Linked DNA regions of Homo sapiens: region 1 is linked to region 2. The links come from fine-mapping of genetic effects on gene expression. Tissue or cell type: B cells. Region 2 holds a variant in brackets; the other region holds the start of a gene. All regions are shown on one strand. Distances are from middle to middle.

The links. PIP is the estimated chance that this variant, and not a neighbour inherited with it, causes the effect.
Region 1: it holds the start of RASSF8, and the variant in region 2 is fine-mapped to the expression of RASSF8 in B cells (Fairfax 2012, PIP 0.95).

The regions. Positions count from the first base shown.
Region 1 is chr12:25,955,277-25,963,384 of GRCh38, forward strand. RASSF8 (Ras association domain family member 8) reads left to right here and starts at 3,406. Exons shown (of 6, transcript NM_001394098.1): 1 at 3,406-3,872. RASSF8-AS1 (RASSF8 antisense RNA 1) reads right to left here and starts at 4,166. Exons shown (of 4, transcript NR_038228.1): 1 at 4,050-4,166; 2 at 1,363-1,488; 3 at 951-1,071. RefSeq lists silencers at 3,018-3,507, 3,608-3,707, 3,778-3,827, 3,968-4,017.
Region 2 is chr12:26,103,212-26,111,323 of GRCh38, forward strand. No RefSeq gene overlaps it. Among named protein-coding and RNA genes, the nearest start is that of BHLHE41, 18 kb to the right of the region's middle. The variant A/T (reference allele first, on the strand shown) is at 4,155.

The DNA of each region.
Region 1 (8,108 bases), 150 kb before region 2:
ATCACAGACTCTTTTAAACATCCAGATCTTTCATGAACTCATTACTGCAGGGAAGGTACATAGCCACACAAGAGATTCCCCATCACCCAAATACCTTCCACTAGGTCCAACTCCAACATGGCGGTCACATTTCAACACGAAATTTGGAGGGAAAAAACATCCAAACAATATCACCATCTTACAGGCTGGTGTTGTCTGGTGGGCTGTTTGGGAAATACTGGTCTAGACACATTTCTCAAACTTGGCAATATGACTCCACTGGACATTAAAAAGGGATTTCCAGGTATTTCAAGATAAAGGGATTTATTCTCAGGAGCTGCAAACATAAGCTAGGTTTTCTTACAGTGTTAACATCTTGGTTTCAGTTACACGGGTCACCAGATTGATACAGATTTAGCTGAGGTAATAAATCACTGCTTCAGCAATCTTAACAGTCAAGTCAGTTATCTAACGATGATTTGACAAGTAATGAGGTCACCTGCCATTTCCTCCCATAAGTAATTCAACTGCATTTAGTTCATAATACATATGGCTAGAAAAGCATCTAAATCAATTCCTACGATCAGAGAGAGAGATGTCCCCATCACCATGAAGCAGAAGTTACAAAGAAATGGGGGAAGATGCTATGCAGTTGGCCTTAAACATAGAGAAAGGGACTATAAGCCAAGGAATGCAGGTGGCATCTAGAGGCTGAAAAGGGCAAGGAAATGGATTCTCCCCTCGATCCTCCAGAAGGAACACAGCCCACACTTTGATTTTAGATTTCTGACCTCCAGGTCTATAAGATGATCAATTCATCTCTCGATATGGCCTCCTCCTGTTCATTGCCACTGCTCTCCAGTTTAGACTCTCCCTTGGATCTGCCTCTTTTCTGAATCCATCCTCTCAAGTTGTTTTCTTAAAAATCAAATCTTATTATGTCACAGGGTTTGAAGTGCATGAATACTCACTGACTCTAGTTAGGCTCCTTTCCTGGAATATCATTAGAAACCAGAAGTAAGGGTTGTTTACAATTCCCATCAAGGACATTTGGTGTGATCTCAGGAAGGCTTAACAGGGATGTGATTATAGCTACCAAAAAAAAAAAAAAGCTTAAAACAAATTGTACTACACTCTGAAGAAAGAACGCATTAACCAAATGGGCTAGGTAGGGTAAAGATTTTTCTGCACTTATCCAGCACTGAATGGAGGCAAATTCACTGACTTTGGCAGCCATCAGTAAGACTGGAGGTGAGGATACCTGGATTTTTAGGAAGGGTTTTTCCTAAATAGTAGGTATTGTTATCCAATCAGGAAGTTCTGTCCTGATATAAATGCTCATCATATAAGAGTTAGTTATCAAGAGTCAGTCAACTTGCTCACCTCTAGATGTGGTAATACTGAGGTCCAGATCCTCCTGGTGATCAACACAAACTGGATTAAGAGTCAGCTACTCAGTCAGATCCTGAATCCTGGTCCAACGATAACCACACTCTTGCCTGCTACCTGCTTCAAGAAGTACACAAAAGAGGGATCACTACCACAGCCAAAGAAAGGAGGAAAGTTTTTTTTTTTTTTTTTTTTTTTTTTTTGAGATGGAGTTTCGCTCTTGTTGCCCAGGCTGGGGTGCAATGGCGTGATCTCGGCTCACTGCAACCTCTGCCTCCCAGGTTCAAGCGATTCTCCTGCCTCAGCCTCCCAGTTGCTGGGATTGCAGGCATGTGCCACCATGCCCGGCTAATTTTGTATTTTTAGTAGAGACGGGGTTTCTCCATGTTGGTCAGGCTGGTCTCGAACTCCCAACCTCAGGCAATCTGCCAGCCTTGGCCTCCCAAAGTGCTGGGGTTATAGGCATGAGCCACCGCGCCCGGCCAAAAGGCAGAAAGTTCTAAGAAGGAGAGGTCAACATTGGCAAATGCCACAAAGGGCACAAGATGGGAATTAAATTTTTCCATTAGATTTGGCAATTAAGCAATGGCTGATGTTGTTCAGTGGAGTGAAAGGCTGAGAAGGGAATGAGAGGTTAGGAAACATTCACCTTAAGGCTAGGCAACTCCTTTGAAAAGAGTCAAGTAGGGTTAAGGGAGGATCCATGCCCTCCAGGTTGACTTTTAAATCATATTCCCTTTGGTTTTGCATTTGAATCACAGTGAACTTTCTCCTCTCCAAATGTTGATTTGACAAATTTGAGTCTTACCATGGCTCTCTTCTCAGTCCACCTGCAGGTCAAGGAACTAATGAGGTGTGGAGTAACTAAAGGTCAAAAAACAAGAGGAAGAAACAAAGGGCCAAAAAACCCCAAACCTTAAATCAGGTCCTGAGTCAGATACGCTGTAACAAATTCTGCTTCAAGTTTAATATTCTTGTTTTGATGATGTTTAAAAAAAGAAAAATAAAAGCAAGTGTCTGGAAAATTAAAAGGCGGGGTGGGGGGGGGCATTTTAATTGGAATGCTTTCTTGTATCTCATCCACTATCCGCACCCCATCGCCCTGCAAATTAATAGCTGTTGCGGAGTTGGGGTATGTGTGACCACAAAATCCAAAGGCTGAATTTTGCCCAGTGCCTGAGTAATTGCATGCCACACACAAAAAAACAGTAGAATATTGAAAACAACATACACATCTGTATTTCCATATGAAAGCACCCGTTTCCTTTCTTGATTATCTGCTATTTTTAAAGGGGTTGGGAGTGCAGCGGGGCGGGGGGATGAGGCGTTTTTTCTGAATACGAGCCCAGCTCTTTCTAAACTTTTGTTACTCACGTCCGTTTGATTCATTTGCTGTGTTTTTTCTTTCTTTCTTTTTTTTTTTCCCCTCTCCTGCCTCTGTCATTGCCTGCTGCTAAGAGGGACGCTGAATCACAGCCACTGCAGATGAAAAGCAATTCAAACCCAGTCCTTGGAGGGGGGATGGAACGGCTCTTTTTGATTTTTTTCCCCTCTGCAGAAAAAGCCTCCTACTTTCCGGGTGACCGTAGAGGGCAGTTTGACAAGTCTCAGCCCCGGGCGATGGAAGATTTTGCCCGTGGGACCGTCACGAGCCACCGGTCATCTCCCCGCGCCCGGCTTTCGGGTCCTCAGGCCTCGGTGCGTCGCGGGCCAGGCGACAGCGGGGGGGCGTCGCGGGCCGGGCGAGCGTGGCCCGGTGGGCCCGAGGGTCGCGCCGAGCTCCCCGCCGCTTTAAAAGCTCCCACAATGCAGCGCTGGCGTCCCAGTTCCGTTACGAGGTCTCTCCCGGCGCCGGCGAGCGGGCCAGGCGCGGGCGGGGCGCGGAGGAGCGGCGGCTGAAACCCGAGCGCCCGGCCGAGGGGGGCGCCCCCGCGCCGCTCCTCTCGCGCGCTCAGCCGCTGCCCGGCGAAGGGGCGGAGCCGCCTGGCCGCCCGGCCCGGCCCGGCCCGGCCCGGCCCCCAGCCCGGCCCCCAGCCCAGAGGCACCGGCCGCGGGAGCGAGCGGGTCGCCGACTCCTACGCCCGCGCTCCTCCTACGCCCGCGCTCGTCCGGCGCCCCGCGCCGCGCCCCGCTCAGCGTCTGCCGCCCAGCTCCTCGCCCAGCCTCGCCGAGCCTCGCCCTTCCCGCCCGCGGCGGCGTTGGCGCTGGGGGCGGCTCCCGCGGCGTCTCTGCCGCTGGCCGAGCGCTCGCGCACCGCGGCACCCCCGCCAGTGGCGTCCACACTCACCTAGCGCGGGCCGGGAGGTGCGCGGAGAGGGAACGCCGGGGGGCCGGGGCCTCCAGCCGGTGCGGGGCGCGCGGCGCGGGGAGCGCCGGGGAGTGCCGGGGAGTGCGGCGCGGGGACGGGCGCTGGGCGGCCGCGGAGCTCCGGGTGCCGCCGCGTCCCCAGCGCCCCGGCCGGCCCCTCTGGGCGGCCTGCGGGGGCGGCGCAGTTGCGAAACTGAGTAAGTATTAACTTTACTTAGCGGCGGCGATCCGGGCTGCGCCGGGGACCCCGCCCGTCCCGCCTGCAGCCTCGGAGCTGCCCTCCGCCCGGTTGCCCCTCTCTCCGCACCTTGGGTACCTCGTCCGTTCCGCCCCCACCCTGCCCCGCCGCGGGCTCCCGCTCCCTCTGCGTTCACCTTTCCTGGTGTGTCACCCTTTGCGCCTCTCCTCGCGGCACACAAGCCGCGGACTGAAAAGTACGAGCTTGGTCTTTGCTTTTCTGCTTCCTCCCAGTGTCCTTGGCAAGGGAGTTTAGAGGCCACTTTTCTTGCAAAGGGAATTTTATGTCTGGTTTTTAAAATATTTTTTCCTCCGGATGGAAATCGGATGCTCGCTTGCCGGGTGGCGGTTTGGTGAACGCTTTTCTCCTCTAAAAAAATATTGGTTTATAGGTTTTTAAATTTCATTTGAACTATTAACCATCTGCATTCTATTCTCCTTTGCCGCCAGTCCCTTTGGGGAGGGGAGTCCAGAAGAGGGGACGTTCAAAGTAATTCTGACTTGCAAACTAGAAAGTTTGAGAGGGTAAATCGCACAAAGCCGGAAGATTCAACTTGAAGGGACGCGAGCTTTGAATGTGGGTCCTGGTGCGGCACTGGGTTTTAAAAGATGAGTACTTGGGTTCGGAATCCAGTGTTGCGTTGTTATTTTAGCATCATAGAGCCGCCTGGTGTTGCTAAACCACTACTTTCCCAGCCTCAAATGGCATCTTGAACAGTGCAACGTAGGATATATAATTGCGGGTCAATATTGTTGCTGATCTTTAGGGATTTAGAAGCGAAATGAATGCAAATCACGTCTCATAGCTGACTTAAACCTGTCAGGTTAGCCCTGTCAGGTTAGCATTAAAGCATTTCATTAAAAAAAAAAATCCTCTAGCCCTGTGACAGCAGGGACGAACATTTATGGATTTTCCAGTAGATTGTGGCTCAGCAATTCATTAGATCTGCTTTGTCCCCAGGAAGCATTTTAAAATATGTATAAATCTCTGCTTTTCTCTCCATTAGATTAACCACTCATTCTGGTAGGGGGCCCCAGGTAGTTTTTATTTTCTTTTTTGCCTTTCATCTTGGAGTTGCCAGGAGTTGCCATCATGTTATGAAGGAACAGAAAATGAGAAGCTTTCTTAATGGGTTTTCGACATCCTGTCCTTTGCCAGAGTGAGGCGGTAGTGAATGCCAGCCAGCTTTCTGCAGGGAGAGGTGCAGGGTGGACGCAAAAATCAGGACGCAGGAGACAGCACTATCATTTGGGGAAGTGGTTTGTGTGAGTTTTATCTTTTAGCGGGCATACTAATGGTACTTTTAATTTTATTTATCTCTATGAGGCACACTCCCCAAACCATAAAATTACACATGACCATCCCCCACTTGAAGAAGACTGAACATAGTTTGATGATTATTCTATTCAAGGATCAAGTACAACAAAATATAATTTGTAATACAGATGATAAAACCTTTCAAAAATCTCCCCCTTCCTCATTTTTTTCCTCAAGAGTCTCCAGGTGGTACTTTCTGTGATGGACACAATTGGCAGTAATGCACTGAGTTCTTTCTAGGTTTATTGATCAAATCTTATGTCTGGGCTTTAGTAGCTTAGGGGTGCATTAGAGGGCCCTGAGAGGGAGCAAATCATGGGGCTGTGCAGGCAGGAAAGGCACTTCACTTTGCAGAAGTGTCAGTGTGCTTCTGGAAAAAACAGTTACAAAGAACAGAGAGTGTTTAAGTTGTTTATAGGATGCATGTTTCCTGAATTTGGCATTTGGTTCAGATATTTGGTAATTACAGATTTAAAATTCGACATGGTTGTATAATTTGTTTTGCCTTTTATTTATTTTTTTAAGGTTGCAACCTTTTAACCTGAATCTTCAGTGTTTGGCTCTTGTAGGCTTCTATACGTGGTGACTTACGTCAGTTTTTGACCTGACTGCCTTGTGTTTTGAGAAATGATTAGTTCTTCAGGGTTTCTGACTCATTAATTGATCTGTTTTATGTTGATGTATATAATGACTTGGAAGTAAAAATATTGTTTGCCGTGGGATATTGTTGTCTTTTTCTTATGGTTAATTCCTGGCATAATGGCTTTGCTCCTTTATTATAAAACATTAAGATCTTAGATATCTTGCTAGTGTTCAAAACATTACAAAACTCTTTGCAAGTAAAAGTGGAGTGGGAATGGGAGTTGGATAGAAAAACATGCATCATAAATTAAAGATTTGGATTACAAAATAATATAACGTTTATTTACTCTTCTTTGATGCTAACTTGCTCTAACCCTAAATAGACTTAAAAATTCAAAGTGTAGAGAGAGTTTCCAAGTATTCTGTATAGTGGAAAGAATGTTTACCCCACTGCCAGCCAGACTTGGGTTGCACGTGTGACTTTGTCACTCCCGAGGTGAGTGAGCTCGGCCATGCCACTTCAGCCTCTGTGATCTACAGTTGCATTTCTGGAAAATGGGGATACCACTACTTAAAGGGATGCTATGGTGAGTAGAACATCTAATATATATTAGATGTGCCTGGCACATTTCAGCCAATAAATGACAACATCTCAAACTCCTTCAGAATTGAGCTCTTGGTCACTCAAACTTTCAAACTGTTCCCCCTCCATTTTTCATCTCATCCATCCAAGGAGTAGCTCACTCCACTCTCTCTTTTCTTCTATCAGCCCTAGCAAACCAGTCCATCATAAAGTCCTGCTGTCCATTTTTATTGCAAAATCTCTTTCAAACCGGTCTGATTTTCAGTCCCCACTATTCTGCCATCCTAATGCAAGCCACTGTACTGTATTATCTTTTTCCTTGGTGCGGTGCCTCCTGCACACACTCTGCACCCCTTGCAGTCTGTTTTACTACCAGCAGCCTGAAAAAAAAAAGAAAAAGTATTTGCCGTCTTAAAGTTGTCAGGGCTCTCAGGAAACACATTTATTTATTTTTGGGATAAGATACCAAATCCTTGACATTACTTCAGGATCCTGCATGATTTGATCTCTACATCCACTTGCATCTCTTGCTGTCATCTTGGCCAGTTCTCCAGCAGACTAGCCTCAGGCCTGTGGCTCATGCTGTTGGTCTCCCTATTTTAGGATCATCTCCTTGAGTAACTTATCATCCTTGGGTGCTAGCTCAAATGTCCTTTCTCATAAAGGTCTTCTCTGACAAGCCCACCCTTATCGTCATGCGAATTAAATGTCCTTTATTTTCTCCCTCATAGCGTAATCACTTTTGCTTCTGAATATTTACCACAATTTATATATTATTTAATCACTTAGGGTCCTTTTCTTGCCCTTTAGGTTAATATGAAGTTGATAATACCTGGTTTAATCACCAGTGCCCAGTATATGTAGTAGGTGCTCAATAAATATGTTGATATAATGAGTAAGATCGTAATATCAGTTTGTATCTTTATCTTTTTTTTTTGAAATGGAGTCTTACTATGTTGCCCAGTTGGTCTTAAACTCCTGGCCTCAAGTGATCCTCCTGCCTCAGCCTCCTGAGTAGCTGGGACTACAGGTGTGTGCCACCATGCCTGGCTTCTGTATTTGTATCTTGATTGCCTTCTTTATCACTGTTAAATTTGCTTTTCATGATAGAAAAGCCAGACCCACACTTTTCTATATTCCTTCTTTGCTGGTTATATGTATAATATGAAACGGCCTTTGCAAATATCAGGTAAAAATGCATGTAGGTTCTGTGAAATATTCGTAGTAATAAATTGAGACACCTTTTAATTAGTGTTACCCTTGTGACTTTCTGTTGTACATAATCCTTTTTCTAAATACATCATTAAAATAATTATTTTTTTATCAGCATAAGCTTACTGAAAGGAAAAAAAATCTTACTGTGCCTTACTATTTTACAGAGCGTCACATGATAACACGTTAGTCAGCTGCTGTCGGCTGGTGGTGCCAGACATCAAAGGAAGATTGGGAAAACTTTAGTAGAAAAACAAGACCTAGAGTTCTAAGGATGCTCAGTGCTGTCCAGCTGTTGATGTGACTTGCATGGTAACCAGACATCACTGGACCATACACTTAAGAGAGAGGAGGAGTTTTTTTTAAAAAAAGTGGGAGCCACCTAGAAGTCTGGAAGTTCTTTTCTTCTCTCTCACTAAAGCATTCCTTGTTTTAGCCAAAAAAAAAAAAAAAAAAAAAAGTCTCATGACCTTCCAAGGCCAAGGAAGGCTTACAGCTTTG
Region 2 (8,112 bases):
TAAAGAAAGAGGAGTGTTACTGAGATCAGTTACTTCACACCCATTTTACCACATCTCCTCACCCACAGGGTACTGAATGTATCTATCTAGGAGACTGTATTTTCAGTTATAAAACATGATAAAATGTTTCATCAATTCATCCCTTTGGGCTCACTTTTAAATTTTGTTTAAGTTTTTCTGTTAATTTACTATAAATGTTTAATAAATTAAGAGTATATTATTCTCATGAGCTAACACTTCCTCCAAACTATTTTCAACCAATGAATTAAAGGATAATGGAATGCTTTTATCGGGTACATAATAAATGGTCAATGCCACCAAATGTTACCAATTTCCAATATTAGAGACATAAAAAATGTAGAAAGGCTGTTCATTTTATGAGGGGATGGTTGAGTGAATTAATTTTAAAAATATTTACTGGATGCTAGACACGGTGGTAGGTACTGGGGGTACTTAAATTAATAATTAGCCAGGACCCAATGCCCACCCTACATCAATTTCAAGAACAGGAACAATAAATGTAAATACATCAGAAGTATTCAACTTGGGGACTTTCAGGAGAATACAAAAATAGAAATAAGGAGACATTCTTTTCATCCTATTCTGGTTCAATTACTTTGTTCTCTGTACAAGCTGGAGAGCACATATTCTCCCATCATGAGAGAAAGGGTGGCGGTCATTCAACCCAAACCAATCACATGTGCTTTGGGCAGAAACTGTCAATATTAAGGCAAATCACATCCAGTTTATCACAGACTCAGTTAAAATAGAAGGAAAATATTCCCTGAAATATGGTCTCTGATGCTTGGTAACAGTGCTTTGGAGCTTGACAGATGTAGAGACAGCCAATCACCTTTACATCTGCCAAAATATCTATTCTCCAAAGCCAGAAAGATAAAACGCCTAAAACCACAATGTGAAGAGTTGAATATTGAAAATTCCATATGTTTTGCAGGTTGATGCTAAATCCTATGAGAAAAACCAGCACATCGGGGCTCTTGTAACCAACTTTCAGGAAAGGAATCCTAATCTCCGAGAGGCAGGTATAAGAAAGATTACTGTTTATAAAGGAGTATGGCCATGCTGACCTTCAAAGTGGGCAGAGCCACAGCAAGCCACCTCATCAGGTCTGATAACCATGTCCTGGAAATGGGTGATTTGGAGATGGCTGGTAGGGCCAACTATATAAGAGTTGGCCTTATTGGTGAAGTAGCCAAACAAATGAGGATGCTTCAAAACTACCATTCGAGTGAACGGAGTTGGGCAGTGGGGGACAGGATTTAGGGCTGAGCACCTAATTTCTCAATCAGATAAAGGGCAAGGTGGTTCTCCTCCTCCCAGCTTGGGTAGGAAGTGCAATCAGTCCGATTTCACAACAGAGAAGGCAAATCCTCCTATGCTGATGTCTTCTCCTAAAATCTATTCCTTGCTCACTCTATCATAGGCACACTGGCCTCCTGACTGTCCCTTGGTTGTGCTGTGCATGCTCCTAGCAAGGGCCTTTGCACTTGCTGTTCTCTGTGCCTGGCACACTCTTCCCCCTGATTTCCTCATGGCCCCCTTTCTCACCTCCTTCAAGACTTTCCTACTATCTCAGTGAGGCCTAGTGTATTCATTTTTTATTGCAGCCATAACAATCACAACTTACTGGCTTAGTATATATAGGGTGAATTCCCATATACACTTCATGTGGCATAAGACAATACAGATTCATTTTCTTATAATTCTGTAGGTCAGAGAGTCAAAGTGAGTCATATCAAACTAAAATCAAGATGATTCTAAAATCGAAGAGGACAGTCTGTGTTCCCTTCTAAGGGCTCTAGGGGAGGCTCCCTTGTAGGACGGAGGTCCCTGTTTCCTTGCTGTCAGCTGAAGGCTGCTCCTGGCTTCTGGAGACTTCCTGCATTCCTTAGTGCTGGCCCCCGGCCTCCACCTTCAAAGCCAGATATGTGGAGTTCTTCTTCCTTCTTTAAATGTTATGAATGGCATTTATTTAGTAACACTGACATTGGTATTAAAATGGGACTACACATTTAAAAAAATCACTGTATTATAAAAATGTCATAAATTTCTCTGGACTCTAAAATTGAAATAAAATTCATAAACACATATCCTCATTTCTCTAGAGATGGATGCGTCTTATGTAGGTAGAAAGAAAATGAAATGGCTAATATGTACCCAGTTTTAAAGGGTATCTAAGGAAAGGTATATTAAGGACACTCAGTTTTTAATTTGGGCTATAATTTTTTTTTGTTTTTTGAGACAGAGTCTTGTTCTGTCACCCAGGATGGAGTGAAGTGGCGCGATCTTGGCTCACTGCAACCTCTGCCTCCCGGGTTCAAGTGATTCTCCTGCCTCAGCCTCCTGAGTAGCTGGGATTACAGGTGCTCACCATCACGCCCAGCTAATTTTTGTATTTTTAGTAAAGATGGGGTTTCACGACGTTGGCCAGGCTGGTCTCGAACTCCTGACCTCAAGTGATCCGCCCGCCTTGGCCTCTCAAAGTGCTGGGATTACAGGCGTGAGCCACAGCACCTGGCCAATTTGGGTTATAAATTGTGAGTGAGAAAATCACAGAGGTGACATGCCCTTGCATCACTTAATATAAATGGGTACATGATATCCACCTGACTTATCACTAGTGATATTAACCATGATCACTTGGTTAATATCACTTGTTTAAGGTGGTGTCTGTCAACTTTCTCCACCGTAAAGTTACTATTTTTTTCCCTACTCTAATCTTTAGAAATGAATCATTAAGTCCAGTCCACACTGAAGGGGATGCTTTATTTATTCCTTATTTGAAAAAATTTTTTTTAACTTACAGAAAAGTTACAAAAATCCTACAATGAATTCCCATATACACTTCATCTAGATTCACCACTGATAACATTTTCCATATGTGGTTTATCAAGATCTCTCCTGCTCCCTCTACAAATATACATATTATTGCTATTCATATGACTATTTGAACTGAAACATTTGAGAGTAAATTGAAGACATCATAACCTTTTGTCCCATATACTTCATCATGTATACCCTAAGAACAAGCAATTCTTTCATCTTCATAGTACAATGACCAATTTCAGGAAATTTAATATTAATATAATGCTATTATCCAATATAGAGACCAGCACTTCCACTTCTGTCTCTGATGGAGTATCTGGGACTAGTCCTCTTGCCTTAACTGTAAAACTGGATGAAATATCAAAGGCAAGTGTTTTCAGACATTGGCGAACAAGCAATACGAGGCAGAGTAGGCAATGCAAGACTGCAATCAATCCCTGAAGGCAGGGAAACCTAAGAGGTGAACGTCATGATGAGCCTGGCTCCCTGCCTGGGGAAATTTTCCTAACTGCAGAGTAGTGATCCAGAATGCACGCAGAGCACAGCAGTCCCTCTGAACTGAGGAGGAAGAGATCAGAGGTTGGGGCAGCTGAAGTGCCAGAATCTGCAAGGCAAGGTCCCAGGGAGATGGGAGCTGTGCAGGTTACAGAAATAAAATTATGAGTTCATACTAATACCTCTACTTCCAATATAATTGCACTAGGCTTTCCCTAGCCTTCCCCCAGCCCATATTTCTGGCTCCCTTTCAGAAGCCCGGTTTGAGAGCAGACAGGCAAAGTCACCATTTCCACTGTCCAGTTTCCTAGCCAAGGGAAAACCTGCCAGTGATAAGGTGCGTAAAATGAGGGATGTGGCCCAAGAGTCATTGGTTTGAAACCCAGAGAACTGATGACGTAAAACTCAGAGAATAACAGATTTAGTAAGGGTGCACCAAACATAAATAGAAATGTAGGGGGTAGAGAACAGCATATTTGCCATCTAAAGCCCCAGTTGTGATATTCTTTAACAAAAATTCCCAGTTATTTAGTTGTAGTTTTTTTAAATTGACTCACTTATTACTGCTTACCACAGCTCCTTCCTTTCTGAGTACTGTATTTTGATTCCTTTCTTTATTGTCTGGTGTCCATCTTTCAGTAACTTTTTTCAAGAAAGCTTCGTGGATTTGGTCTCCCTTGGTTCCATGATTATCACCTTGGCCACATATCGTAATGAACTTGAAAACTTTTGAAAAACTACTGACTTTTGGGCATCATCCCAGACCAATTCAGTCAGGTTCTCTGAGGGTAAGATCCATGCAACAGTATTTT[A/T]AAAAAAAATTCCTCTAGTGAGTCTAATATGCAAATGAATATCTCCAATCTCAAATAAATTACACAAACAGGCTCTCTTAGTGGGGCAAAGAAAAACCAAAGAAAGTTGCAAGTGAAGTTCAAAAACACAGGGTTGATTTGAGAATGTTGGTTTGTTGCCTTTATACTAAAGGAACTCCTTGGATTTTTTTAAAAAATGCATCACTTTTTTCTTTCTCTCACAACTATATAGGCTGGTGCATTTCAAATTTTAATGTGCTTTGGTCCATTGGAATCATCTTTGCATCTGGTCAAAATGCAGATTCTGATTCAGTAGATCTGGAATGGCAACTGAGATTCTGCATTTCTAATAAGCTCACAGGCGATGCCAATGCTGCTGGTTCATGGACCACACTTTTGAGTAGCAATGGTATAAATCCTGCTCCTCTGCCTTCTGTAATAAGAATTGCTTTGGAGGAATCTGGGGATACCTGAACATGGCCATTGTTTCCCTCTTGAGTGGCTTGCTTCTTTTTCCTTGGATGTTAATATGATTTTCTTCTTATCTTTGAAATTCAGATATAGTTAGGTTACATGTGTTAAGCCATAAAATAACGATTCCCACATTGATATTGCATTTGCCTCTGAACCCTTTTTTGTTCTTGTGCCTGTGAGGCCTAACTCCACAAGACTTTCAGCTCTTCCTGAGGACTTTTCATAGGATTGACAGGATGCCTGGCCTACCTAGTGACTGAGATTCTGGTTTCCTTATTTATGCATTTGTTACAATCAAATGGGTTTGTTCTTTGCAACCAAAAAAAATTAAAGACTATGGATTTTAAACCAGACAATGTAAAAATAAAGACTGCATAGAATGCTGTGGCAAAAAGCAACATTAATGCAAAAAAAATTTAGTTATAGTGGTGACTGGCAGAAAGAAGGGCAAGGGCAAAGAAGATTCCTGTATTCAATGGGCTTCTTACAAGTCATTATTTGAGCTAGGTTGAATGACAGACTTGTAAATAAGAGAAAAGGGTTAAAAAAAAAGTTATGGTGCCAAAAAAGAGAGGAAGAAAAAATAAAAGATTAGAATGTGATGCTAAATGATGCTAGAATACTTTAAACCAAGTAAAAGCTGTAAATTAAGAAATAAGAATAAAAAATTTTAAACGAGTAACAAGCCAAATTTTAAACCAAGAAAACTATTTTTAAAAGCCCTAATAAAACAGAAGTATGAGCTATAAGATAAATGGAATAAAGGTTGGAGCAAGAAGATAAATTTAAAAAGAAAATTAGAAGGTTAAAATAACTAAGGTCAAAGTTAAAAATGAGGTCAGTTATGAAATAATTTAAAGCAGATATTCTAAGTAAGTAAAGGTTGAAAGCCAACAGGGTAATAAGGTAAGATTTAAAATAGGACATGAGATACTTTAATCCTTCATGAGAGTAGGATTAAAGATAAAAATAATCAGATGATTTATATGGATGTTAAGATATCATCAAACATAAAAAAAAAGTTTAAGTTAGAAGTAAAAAGAAGAGAAAACATACAAGGAGTAAGAGGGCTTGGAGCTTATCTGTCTTTTCCCCCAAAATAATCTTTTAATGGAGTAGTGGTGTCTTAATGGGGTAAAAACCCAAGAGGACAGAGAGCAATGTGACACCTTGGTCATGGAGGCTCCCCTTTGCTCCCCTCAGCAAGTACCAGAATGCCAGCCTCACCAGCAGTAACCAGAGAAGACAGACAGGAGGTTTCATACAGCAAACTCACAGCTGGATGGCACCAACCTGACCCAGGAGAAACTCCCTGGCCTGCCAGCTACATTCCCTCCTGGATTATCTCCTCCAAATTTAGCCCATGCACAGAGTCAGGGGAACTACCCTCTCGAGATCAATAACCTATGAAAACTCAGGTTTCAACAGTTGTCTCGTGTCTCTAGAAAGTTTAAGGACTGGCCCAGCCTCCAGAGTTTTTAAAAAGGTATTTATTCAATAAATGTTTATTGAGCCTCTTCCCTGTCCCAGGCAGCGTACTAGACTCCAGGAATGCGATGATGAATGAACAACAGATCTCTCTTAACAGAGGTCCAGACTTGTTACATGCGGCGGATAGGGAAGTTTTAACAGGTAGTTTCAATGCATCACCAACGGCACAAGTGGAAGCCTTGGCTTTGAGCAGGAGGAGGGTCACATTTCCTCTGCAGCTGGAAGGAAAGTGAGGACACGGGAGGAGGAAAGCAGGGAGGGCTGAAAGCTGGGGAAAGCATGACCATTGGCAGAATTTTCTTGGTGAAATAGGGGTTTTCCTGAGAGAGAGGAGTCTGGAAATAAGCCGAGGTCTTGGGTAAGTGGGAGAGAGAGGTCTGGGAGGGTCATAAGGAAATTCGAGAAGGAGCTAAGAACAAGTAAACAGTCTGACAGACAGCAGTGCAGGCCAAGCGAAGGCTGGAGGTGGTGCCAATCTGCCTGACAGGACTGTTAGGGCGTCCAGGTGCTGGAGACATACACAATTAATTACAATACAATGTGAAGAGTCTCAATGTGACAGGATGATTTACTGAGACGTTACTCTCTGTCTGTTCTCCTTGCATTTCCCCCCTCAACCATTTTCAAGAATGGCTCTGGGGCTAGTTACATCAGGGGAGTTTTGAAGCAAACCTCCTACCAGGCCCTTTATTTTTTTCTTTTTTATAGCAGAGGTCTCAAAGCAGCCTTCTCCAGATTGAATAATACTTTAACAGATAGATTTCATTTGTAATGAATAGTGTTTTGAAGTTTTCAAAAATAATTGCCAACATTTTGAAAGTAGATTTCACATAAAATCTAGATTTCAGCTTTTCCTGGAAAAATTGGATGATCTCGCAATACTGGGCCTACGTTTTCACCAGGCTGCAATTGCTTGGAGCTGAGTAATGTCTGTCCCTTTTAAAGGAGGCGCAACCTCCAGTTCACTCTGGTCCCTACCATTTTCTCTGCCAATACCATTCATTCAGGTTAGCTGCCTGGTCTCTGCAGCCCTCTCTAAATAAAGCTGGAAATTATGTTAGGGGGAAGGAGTGGAGGCAGAAGCAATAAGCAGTGGGGCACAGGTGTGCAGCTCCTTGGGCGTGGCAAAGCCCAGGAGGGGAATAGGGACACAATGCCCCAAAGGCCTAGGACTTCCAGCATCAGCAAAGACTCCTACCTAGAAAGTGACAGAGAAGGCAAGGATACCAAACAGCAGGCTCTGACACTGACAATTATCTAGGGCAGTCTGAGAAAGAAGGGGTCCTTCCCCTGGTTCCTGAAATCCCGAGTCCTTGTGAAAATCCTAGAGAGTTTGGGGAGGGGAGGGGGACAGGAGAGTCCACAATGACTGAGATCATTTTCCAACAGCCCTTGGGGAAGTAGCGTGAAGTCAGACTTAATGAGAGAAAATAAGAATATCCATCACTTCTTGTACATGCACGTTTGTGGAATAAGATGTTAAACATCAAAATGGAGATTTAAAGAAAGGGCTAAGAGTAAAGAAGTGGGTGAGGTTAAGTTTTGACTAAAATAGTTATGGAAGTTTTCACAGAGGAGGTGCAATTTGAGCTGAGTTTTGAAGGATGAGTAGGAGGTATCCAAATGTAAGTTAATCTACCTAAAGACAAACATTTGAGAGTGCAAAGCATATTCAGGGAACTTGCAGTAGTTCCGTGCAACTAGGCCATTAGATGCTCATCTTTCGGTGGGGGAAAACAGGACAAGGAAGGAAATGGAAGAGAGTGAAACCAGAAGGGAAGGTTTAAGCCTTCACACATTCTTCATGACTGTATGAAGTATACTATGCTTTAGTATACCTTCTGTGTTTAGAAAGTTAATTGACTGGGCGCGGTGGCTCACGTCTGTAATCCCAGCACTTTGGGAGGCCAAGGCGAATGGACCACAAGGTCAGAAGTTCGAGACCAGTCTGCCCAACATGGTGAAACCCTGTCTCTACTAAAAATACAAAAAT